Regions from separate parts of the Homo sapiens genome. Here region 1 is linked to region 2. A link means that fine-mapping ties the variant in region 2 to the expression of a gene that starts in the linked region. Tissue or cell type: lymphoblastoid cells. Region 2 holds a variant in brackets; the other region holds the start of a gene. All regions are shown on one strand. Distances are from middle to middle.

The links. PIP is the estimated chance that this variant, and not a neighbour inherited with it, causes the effect.
Region 1: DAAM1 starts here. The variant in region 2 is fine-mapped to the expression of DAAM1 in lymphoblastoid cells (GENCORD, PIP 0.95).

What each region holds. Positions count from the first base shown.
Region 1 is chr14:59,186,164-59,190,417 of GRCh38, forward strand. It overlaps DAAM1 (dishevelled associated activator of morphogenesis 1), which reads left to right and starts at 2,504. Exons shown (of 25, transcript NM_001270520.2): 1 at 2,504-2,605. RefSeq lists enhancers at 2,007-2,246, 3,027-3,786, 3,497-3,656, 4,087-4,136 and silencers at 2,717-2,856, 2,917-3,136.
Region 2 is chr14:59,219,592-59,223,845 of GRCh38, forward strand. The region is part of intron 1 of DAAM1 (dishevelled associated activator of morphogenesis 1); the gene reads left to right. Among named protein-coding and RNA genes, the nearest start is that of DAAM1, 33 kb to the left of the region's middle. RefSeq lists a silencer at 800-1,094. The variant G/A (reference allele first, on the strand shown) is at 2,511.

The DNA of each region.
Region 1 (4,254 bases), 33 kb before region 2:
TAAAATGAAAAGATAGAAAGTAAAGAAACCCATTTTGACTGAGAATATCAATTAGCTAGACAGAGTGGGTGTTTTTGATGATTTATGAGACTACTTGGCCACCTAGAAAAAATTAAATGCAAACATACACAATGATTGTGTATGAAAGTGAGTGAGAGAGAGTGTGTGTGTGAGTTTCCTTCTGTCTCCAAAGAAGTGGTTAAGCCTCCTCTGCTGCTAGTTCTACAGACTGTATTTCTCATGTTAAAGAGCCATCTTTGTTTCCCTTGGTTACCAATGAAACTGTGCAGGGATCAGTTCAAATCCATCACCACTTGCAGATAATTTTTCCAAACACAATGCCCTCTTTCTACATCTATTATCTATATTTATAGCTATTAGATAGGAAGAGCAGTTCACATGTGCATTTCTCCACATTTATGTGCTTACAGTCTATTGTGTATGCTGTCCTTTATATGGAGATGACTATGTCACATGGCACATCCCTATAATATTGTTAAAGAGAATGGAATTTTTGTTTTCAGACAGACTGCATCTTCTCCTTCATTACTGAAGAGCCAAGAGAACTTGTTGTAAGGTGATTTCTCCATTAAAATTACTCCTCAGAGTGTGCCTCAGTAACATACTTTTATCTACAAGGATAAGCCCTGTCTTAACAGAAAGGCTCCACATTCAATTTATTGACTCAATAAATTTCAGGCTCACTGATTATGTTTCAGTCTAAAAGCTTTACACAGTTATAAAATTAGAAGAGCCTTTAGAATCATCCCAGGTCAAGTTTCTCTCTGAATATTTTTCCACCATGAACTGCGTTACATTAAGTCTACCCATTAGTTAGAATATCAGTGATTATATCCTTGATCTGATGGCCAGGGGAAAATTTATATTGTCAGAGTTCATTTTAGATAATATTTGAAATGGAAGAAGTAGCTGAGGACAGAAGAGCAACATTCAAAGCTATCTTCTTTCGGGGGAGAAAAGTGGGTCTTGTCTATAAAGAACAGGCTTGTTAAAAGAACATCAGAATTCATCGCTAAACATCTCTCTGAGCAAAACAAAGCATTTCCTCTCCCCTGAGATCCTCAACTAATTTCATAAATATTTTTTCACTTGAACCCAACTTAGTGTTGCAGAATGAAAGGAGAAAATAAATGATAAGAGTTCCACCAACACTTCAGTAGGGAGTTGTCTGAAATCTTAATTGTGAACCTTTTTTTCACAAGATGCACAGTCTTCTAGAGATTTTGCTAGTGGAACGGGTGTGTGAGCTGATCATTATATGGAATTGAGACACATCAAATGCCATTAAAATTTACATTTACAACTCGAGTAACTAAATGCATTGATTCTTTTCATATTAAAAGACACTTGGTATTCACTGAATAATGAAAAATGCCACGGAAAAAATTATGTATTAACAATACAACCTGCCTAAAGGGTCAGAATTCTGCTACACACCTTTTGCTTACCTTTAAATAAATATTTAGGTGTGTTAAGAGCAGGGCAATTCTTGAACGGCACGATGTTGTTTGGTTTAATGTCTTTATAAAAATATTTGAAAAGGTATGGAAAATGAGGTGAGAGTGTTGTGGATTTAAAAACATGTGTATACATAGATACACAATTATTAAAACTTTAGACAAGGACGTTTTCTTCCTGGGAGTGGAGAGCCACCAGCGCGGGAAGTCTGCTGCAGGGATGAACAAAAGCATGGCTGCACGATAGTATTATCTTTGCAGCAGCAGCAGGCGCCCTGACGGAGGGTTGCGGCGACTGTCTAGTCTATCACACCGCACTTCTGGTAGTGACAACCTCCGTTATTCTGTCAGCTCAGCCGACTAAGTGGTTCCCCGCGTTCTGCCTGGTCACCTTGTCTCCGTTAAACGGGAAGCAGAAAAGAGAAAGGTGAATTGAGGGGGTACAAGGAGATTCCTCCGCCTTGGGACCGGCGTCGCCCCATCCTCTGGAAGTGTTGAGCGGGGAGAATTCGAGGACCGTATTTAACCCAGAAAACAGTAAGCCCTCTGAATTAGCTGCTACGCCTGGGGAAGGCAGAAAAGTCTTAATCGTCCCTTCCCAGCAGGGACCAAGAAAGACCAGTTAGAGCGAGCCTGGCCGGACCACGCGAGCCCCGGACCTCTCCGATCCTTCAGAGCCCGCGCCGGGCAAAGTAGAGGTCAAGTCAACACACACGACCGCAGGGCAGCCCTCCCACTCTCCCGTGCGGTCCGCAGCTCGGCTTCGGAACGACCACCGCTAACACTGCAAGGCTGTAAGGCTGGGAGGGGGCGGGTCCTGAAGGGGGCGGGAATAAGAGGCGGGGCAGAAGGGCGGAGGAGTGTGTCGGGAGATGTAGTTCCGCGAGTCCCGACAGCAAAGCTGTCCCGGCTCCGCTAATAGATTGGGACCACTACTCCCAGGAGTCTGCGCGCCCGACCGGAGCGTCCATGCGCAGTGGGAGCCACTTTGTATCCTATCAGGCGAGGAGAGGGTGATGTCACCTGCGAGTTAGTAACCTACGAGCGGCTGTGAAGGAAACTGTTTAACCGGATCCCATTGTACCCAGAGTGCAGAGCCGCCTTTCCAGCATGCAGGGGCTGCTCAGGTAAGGGGGACGCTCCTCCTTGCCCGCCGCACTCATTCATTAAGTGGCACTGCTCAGTGGTGCGGGGGTGGGCGTGCTTCCGTGGGCTGGGCGCTGGGTTCGCGGCGCGCCCTCCTGCTGCCTCCCCGGAGCTCCCGGGCCAGTAGGTAAATATTAAACCCGTCCTTCAGGTTGGGTCTGGGTGGGAACGGGACCGAGACAGCTCTCGGCTGCCTAGCTGGGGGTGGGAAAATGGCTGCAGCGCAACGCAAACCGAGGCAGCAGGGAGGAAGACGCCCCCAAGGACTGGGGTCCCTCCCTTTCTTTCTAAGGCGCCCGGCTGGCCGAGGAGCTGGCGGGGTAACACTCGCCGCCTTGCTGAAGGCTCCCCGGGGCTGGGGCCGCGGGTACTGCAGCGGCGTCCGCGAGCTCCCGGCCCGGCGGCTCCGAGAGGGAGAACCCCGAGGCAGGCTTGGTGGACACGGCGGTGGCGACAGGGAAGGAGGGACTCGTGTACCCGTTCGCGTCCGAGCAGAGCCCCCAGTGCCCCTGGCACCCTCACTTCCAGCCCCATTCGAAAGGGACGGAGCGCCTGTAATTCAGACTAAGTTGGACCTAAATGTTTCAAAACAGAGAGAAGGGAAATCGGGCGTTGCGGAGGGAGAGCAGGGTGTTGGCGGCCGGGGAGGCTGCGCCGCCTGCGGACCCGGTTGTGAGGCACCGCAGAGGGCTTTTGCCGCCCGTCCCTCTCGGGAGGGCGCATCTCAGTCTCCACGGTCCCTTGGTGTAGAGCACCTGGGCTGGGGCGAAGCGCCTGCCCTGAAGCCCTGGGCCAGGAGGTGGTAGCGCGGGGGTGGAGGTGTCGGATAATCTAATGATTAGGCTCGCTGTGGGGCAGGAGGGCTGGATAATCGGGTTTACCCAGCTGGTTCTGAAAGCCAACTGCTTGTGATCGGCTTGCCCTCTGAGTGGAGACGTGCAGGAGGCCCAGAGCTCTCAGTCCTCTGGATGTTCTTTGCCTTTCCTAGTACCTTCATTTGTTCGTTTACTCATTCATCAAACCCTGCTAAGGTCTCAAGTTGTTCACGGCCTGGCTTTGCGGAGCTACCTCTCGCCCCATAACATATTTAGTGATGCCTGAACTCCATTCCCCTCTCCTTCATCTCCACTTTCTGGAGAGCATCAAGAGCAAATGCCACCGTGACCGTTTTGCTGGTAGTTTCTTGAGATTCGAGCAGGACCCAGTGAATCGAAGCGGAGTTGCCTGCAAGATGAATCCCGTTGCCATGGCGACTCCTGCCTTCGGAATCTTAGCCGCTGCCACTGCTGTTTCGATTCGATGTGGCTCTGCGGGCAGCTGGGAGGGAGTGGCTAGTGGGTGTGGTCAAACGCTCGCCCTGGCCCAGCTGCTCTCTCCTCCTCGCCCCTTTCACAGCCCCGGGACTCTCCCCTTTCTCTCCTAAATAGCTTGGACACAGTTCTAAACCCCTTTCCCTTCCCCGTGCCACACCTCATCACGCCACCTCTCTCCCTGAAACTAATTGTTTGGCGCCTTTTTCCTGAGGCAAACTCTGAAAATTATAATTTGAAAAATCTCTTCCCCCTTTCGGGCTAGCCGCATCATTTCCCCAATAAGGTAGTTTATGGTGTTGGAGGCAGCTTTGTCATGA
Region 2 (4,254 bases):
TTATACGGTACTCTTTCCTCCAAGAGTAAAGTCTAGAAAACTGGAATTTCTGCTTTCTAGAATTGGATCTTAGGTATAGTCAAGACTTAGTGCCAGTGTCTTTCATATGTTCATAAACATCATATAAACATGCAATACTTGATTTGAACATGAGCTTGGCCAACCTGTGTTTTGAGTCCTTCAGCCTTTCCTTATTTCTTGTCTTCTTACTGTAGGATCCTGCTTGTCTAATATCCCTTTGGTGTCTGCTCCTTTGCCTTGAGGACTTTGGTGCCACTTCTGGACATGCCTTTATTCATTCTTAGCTGTGGTCCAACATCTTGCTCCAAAGGCTCACATTTACCTTGTCTGGGTGCCAGCTATAGATTATGTTTGAATTCAAGAGTGGTTCCTGCTATGGATGTAGCTATTGGTTTCGAAAAATACAGATTTTTTTTTTCCAGGATGGCATCCATTGCCTGTCACTGAACTACAGTGAAAAGTGTTGTTTTGGTTTCAGTTCTTGATTTTAAGCATTTGACCAAATTTCAAGGTCTCTCATCCCAAGATTTTGTTTTGCCAGAAGCTTCTGGCAGGAAATAGAATGATAAAGGAAGAGATACACAGAAGTCAGAGAATTGGCGGCTCTATTCTCAGGTGTAATGGAACTTAATTAAACTTTAAGCTCCTAAAAGGCAAGGGTGATATGTTTTACTTTGTTACCTATACTTAACCTATAAGTGGCACATGGATTAACTCTAGAGCAAACATGCTCTATGTTTGCTGAGTGGATTGTTGTTTGGTCTTATTTTTGCCAACATTTAAGGGAGGTAGAAGTTAAATATTCTGTATTAGAAATAAGTTTTGCCTAGTTTTGAAGAATGAACTGGCTTATGACATGGTTTCCTCAATAGCCACAATTATTGCCCCAACAATACTTACTTTATTAGTCTTTGTTTTCTCAAGGAAACAGGACCAATAGGAAATCTGTCAAGGGGATTTATTGTAGGAAGGCCAAGGAGTCCCGCCATCTGCCATCTGCAAGCTGGAGAACTAGGGAAGGTGATGGTGTAATTTAGCTGGGTCTAAAGGCCTGAGGACCAGGAGAGCCAATAGCCAATGGTGGTGCTGGCAGAGGGGGATGGGGATGACTTACTGCTGGTGTGAGTACCAGAGCCAAAGACCTAAGAACTAGGGGATCTCCAGTGTGCAATGGAAGGAGAGGATAGATGTTTCAGCTCTAGGAGAGTGAATTCACCCTTCCTCTGCCTTTTTGTTCTACCTGGGCCCTAAACCGATTGGATGATGCCCACGCACATTGGTGAGAGAGGATCTTTCCTGAATCTACAGATTAAATGCTAATCTCTTCTAGAAACACTCTCACAGACACACCCACAAATAATGTTCTACCAGCTATCTGGGTACCCTTTAACCCAGTCAAATTACACAAGTCTACCTTGTCAACTTAACATCCATACACATCCCCTTAAACCATACCTAACCTCCAAATAAAGACAATGACAAGGTCATAATTCCACCTATCAAGGTACAATGATCCTGTGTACAACTGAAAGTGCACTTATCCCTTCTCTGGAAGTGGAGGTGAAGTCCTTGAGTGATGTTTACTCCTCTCCTGAGACTCTGTAACTTAAATAGTATAGAAAATTATCATTACTGAAATACTGACATAAAGTCATTAACATCTTGTGTGATAAGGGAATAAGAGAGGAAGGAAAACAAGGATATTTACTTAATATATGTTTATATACACACAAACGTATTCATAACAAAATAGGGAGGAAATACTCATGGTAATTACAATCTTCCTTTCTGTAACTGGTCACATGGTCACAGATGGTATCATAACTAGCTTTCCTACTACTCATTCTGTATTCCCTTTGCCTTCAGCTGGTTATGATTCTTTATCTGGTCGGGTGGCTTAAACCTTCATTTCTGAAGGGTCTGGATCATTGGCAGTTCTGCCTGGATTGGGTTGTTGTCATTTTTCATTGGCCTTAGTTGCTGGGCATGGTAATACTAAGAGAAGCTCTAAACGATCTCTTGTATTCCAGACATACTTTTCCTTACCTCCACTGTGGAATAGTAGTCCAGTTTCTTCTTGGTAATCTGGATGGGTCACTCCAGCCAACACTGTAACTCCTTTCTTGTCCTGCTGACTCAGAGGCATGAGGAGCCCAAAGTGGCCTGATGTCCTTAACTTGCATTTCAATGGAATTATTGTTGTGTCTCCTGCTGGAAGCATTCTTCCCTCTGGAACTAAGGCCAGCAGAGCATAAAGTTGTGGGAATAGGAAGCAAACATTTTGCCAGTGACCCACTAGGCGTAATGGTGAGTGGTGCCACCCACTCCCATTTCCACTCCTGATTCCTATACCTGTGAATCTTGGCTGTCAGAGAAGCACTACCATATAGCAGATGCTGATTCAGAGCATATACAGTCTTCTGGCTAACCTTGCTCCAAGCCCTGCAAGGTGTTGTCAGCTACGTAGCATGTAACTGAGTCTTCAGAAG[G/A]TTGTTCCATTGTACAATCAAATCAGCTACTTCAGGATGGTGCTTTATGATGGTAGGGAACATGGTAAGACTATTGAATTCCGTGAGTTCGGGCCCCTTTCCTCATTTTGTGGTCTGTGAAGTGAGTTGCTTGGTCAGAAGCAATGCTTCTTATTCACTATGATGGTGAATAGGGCATTCTGGAAGTCCATGGTTGGTGATTTTGGCAGAGGCATTGCATGCAGGAAAGGCGAATTCATCTCCAGAGTCAATGTCCATTCCAGTAAGGATAAAACACTGTGCCTTCCTTGATGGAAGAGGTCCAGTGTAATCAACCTGCCACCAGTTAGCTGGCTGATGACCCTGGGGAATGGTGCCATAAAGGGGGCTCAGTGTTGGTCTTTGCTGCTGGCAGATTGGGCACTCAGCAGTGGCTGTAGCCAGGTCAGCCTTGGCGAGTTGAAGTCTGTGTTGCTGAGCCCATGCCTAACCTCCATCCCTGCCACCATAGCCACTTTGTTCATGAGCCACTGGGCGATGACAAGTGGCTGGGAAAAGAGGCTGACTGGCATCCATAGAATAGGTCATTCTATCCACTTGAAATCCTCCTCTGCTGAAGGTTACTCTTTGGTAAGCATTCACATAGGAAACTAATATCTTCATGTTTTTAGCCCATTCAGAATGGTCTGTCAACATACTTCTCCCCCAGATTTCTTTGTGACCGATTTTCCAATCATGTCTGTGGACATCCAGCCATGCCATTGGCTACAGCCCATGAATTGGGTATATAATTGCATGTCTGGCCATTTCTTCTTTCAAGCAAAGTGCACAACCAGGTGGACTGCTGAAGTTCTGCCCACTGGGAGGATTTCCCTTCACCACTGTCCTTTGAGGATGTCACAGGGAACGGCTATAATACTGCAACTGTCCACTTTCAGGTGGTGCCTGCATGTAGTGCAGAATCATCTGCAAACTAGGCCCAAGTCTTCTCTTCCTGTGTCAGCTGATTGTAGGGAATTGCCCATGAGGCCATAGGTGCAGGCTGGGACTAGAGAAGACAGTGTAGCAGGAGTGGGGACTGTGGGCATTTGAGCCATGATGACATTTAACTTACTTGTGCCTTCAGGATCTGCTTTCGCCTGATCGTGTATATACCACTTCCATTTGATGATGGAGTGCTGCTGTGCATGCCCAGCTTTGTGGCTTGGTTGATCATATAATACCCAATTCATGATGGGCAGTTTGGGTCATATGGTAACTTGGTAGCCCATGATTAAGTGCTCATTTTCTACCAAGGCCCAGCCCAAGAGCTGTCTCTCAGAAGGAGGGTAGCCATCTGTAGGTGATGGCAACACCTTATTGTAAAATCCTAAAAGCCGGTGCTGCAATTCATTTGTAGGATCCTGCTGAAGAGTCTAAATGGCATCTATGTCTGCCACTGATAGACACTTCAGGCAATGTTGGAATCTGCTGGATCATATGGCCCCAGTGGAAGAGCAACTTGCACGGAAGCCTGGATCTATTGCAGAGCTTTATCCCATTCTGGGCCTCATTCAAAACTAGCAGCTCTTTGGGTCACTCAGTAAGTGGGCTAGAGTAACACGCCCAAATGCAGAATATGTTGCCTCCAAAATCCAGATGGGTCCACTAGTCATTGCACTTTTTGATGGTAGGAGGGGCCAAATATAACAACTTGTACTTCATCTTGGAAGGGATGTCTTAACATGCCCCACACCTCTGGACCCATAGGCATTTCACTGAGATG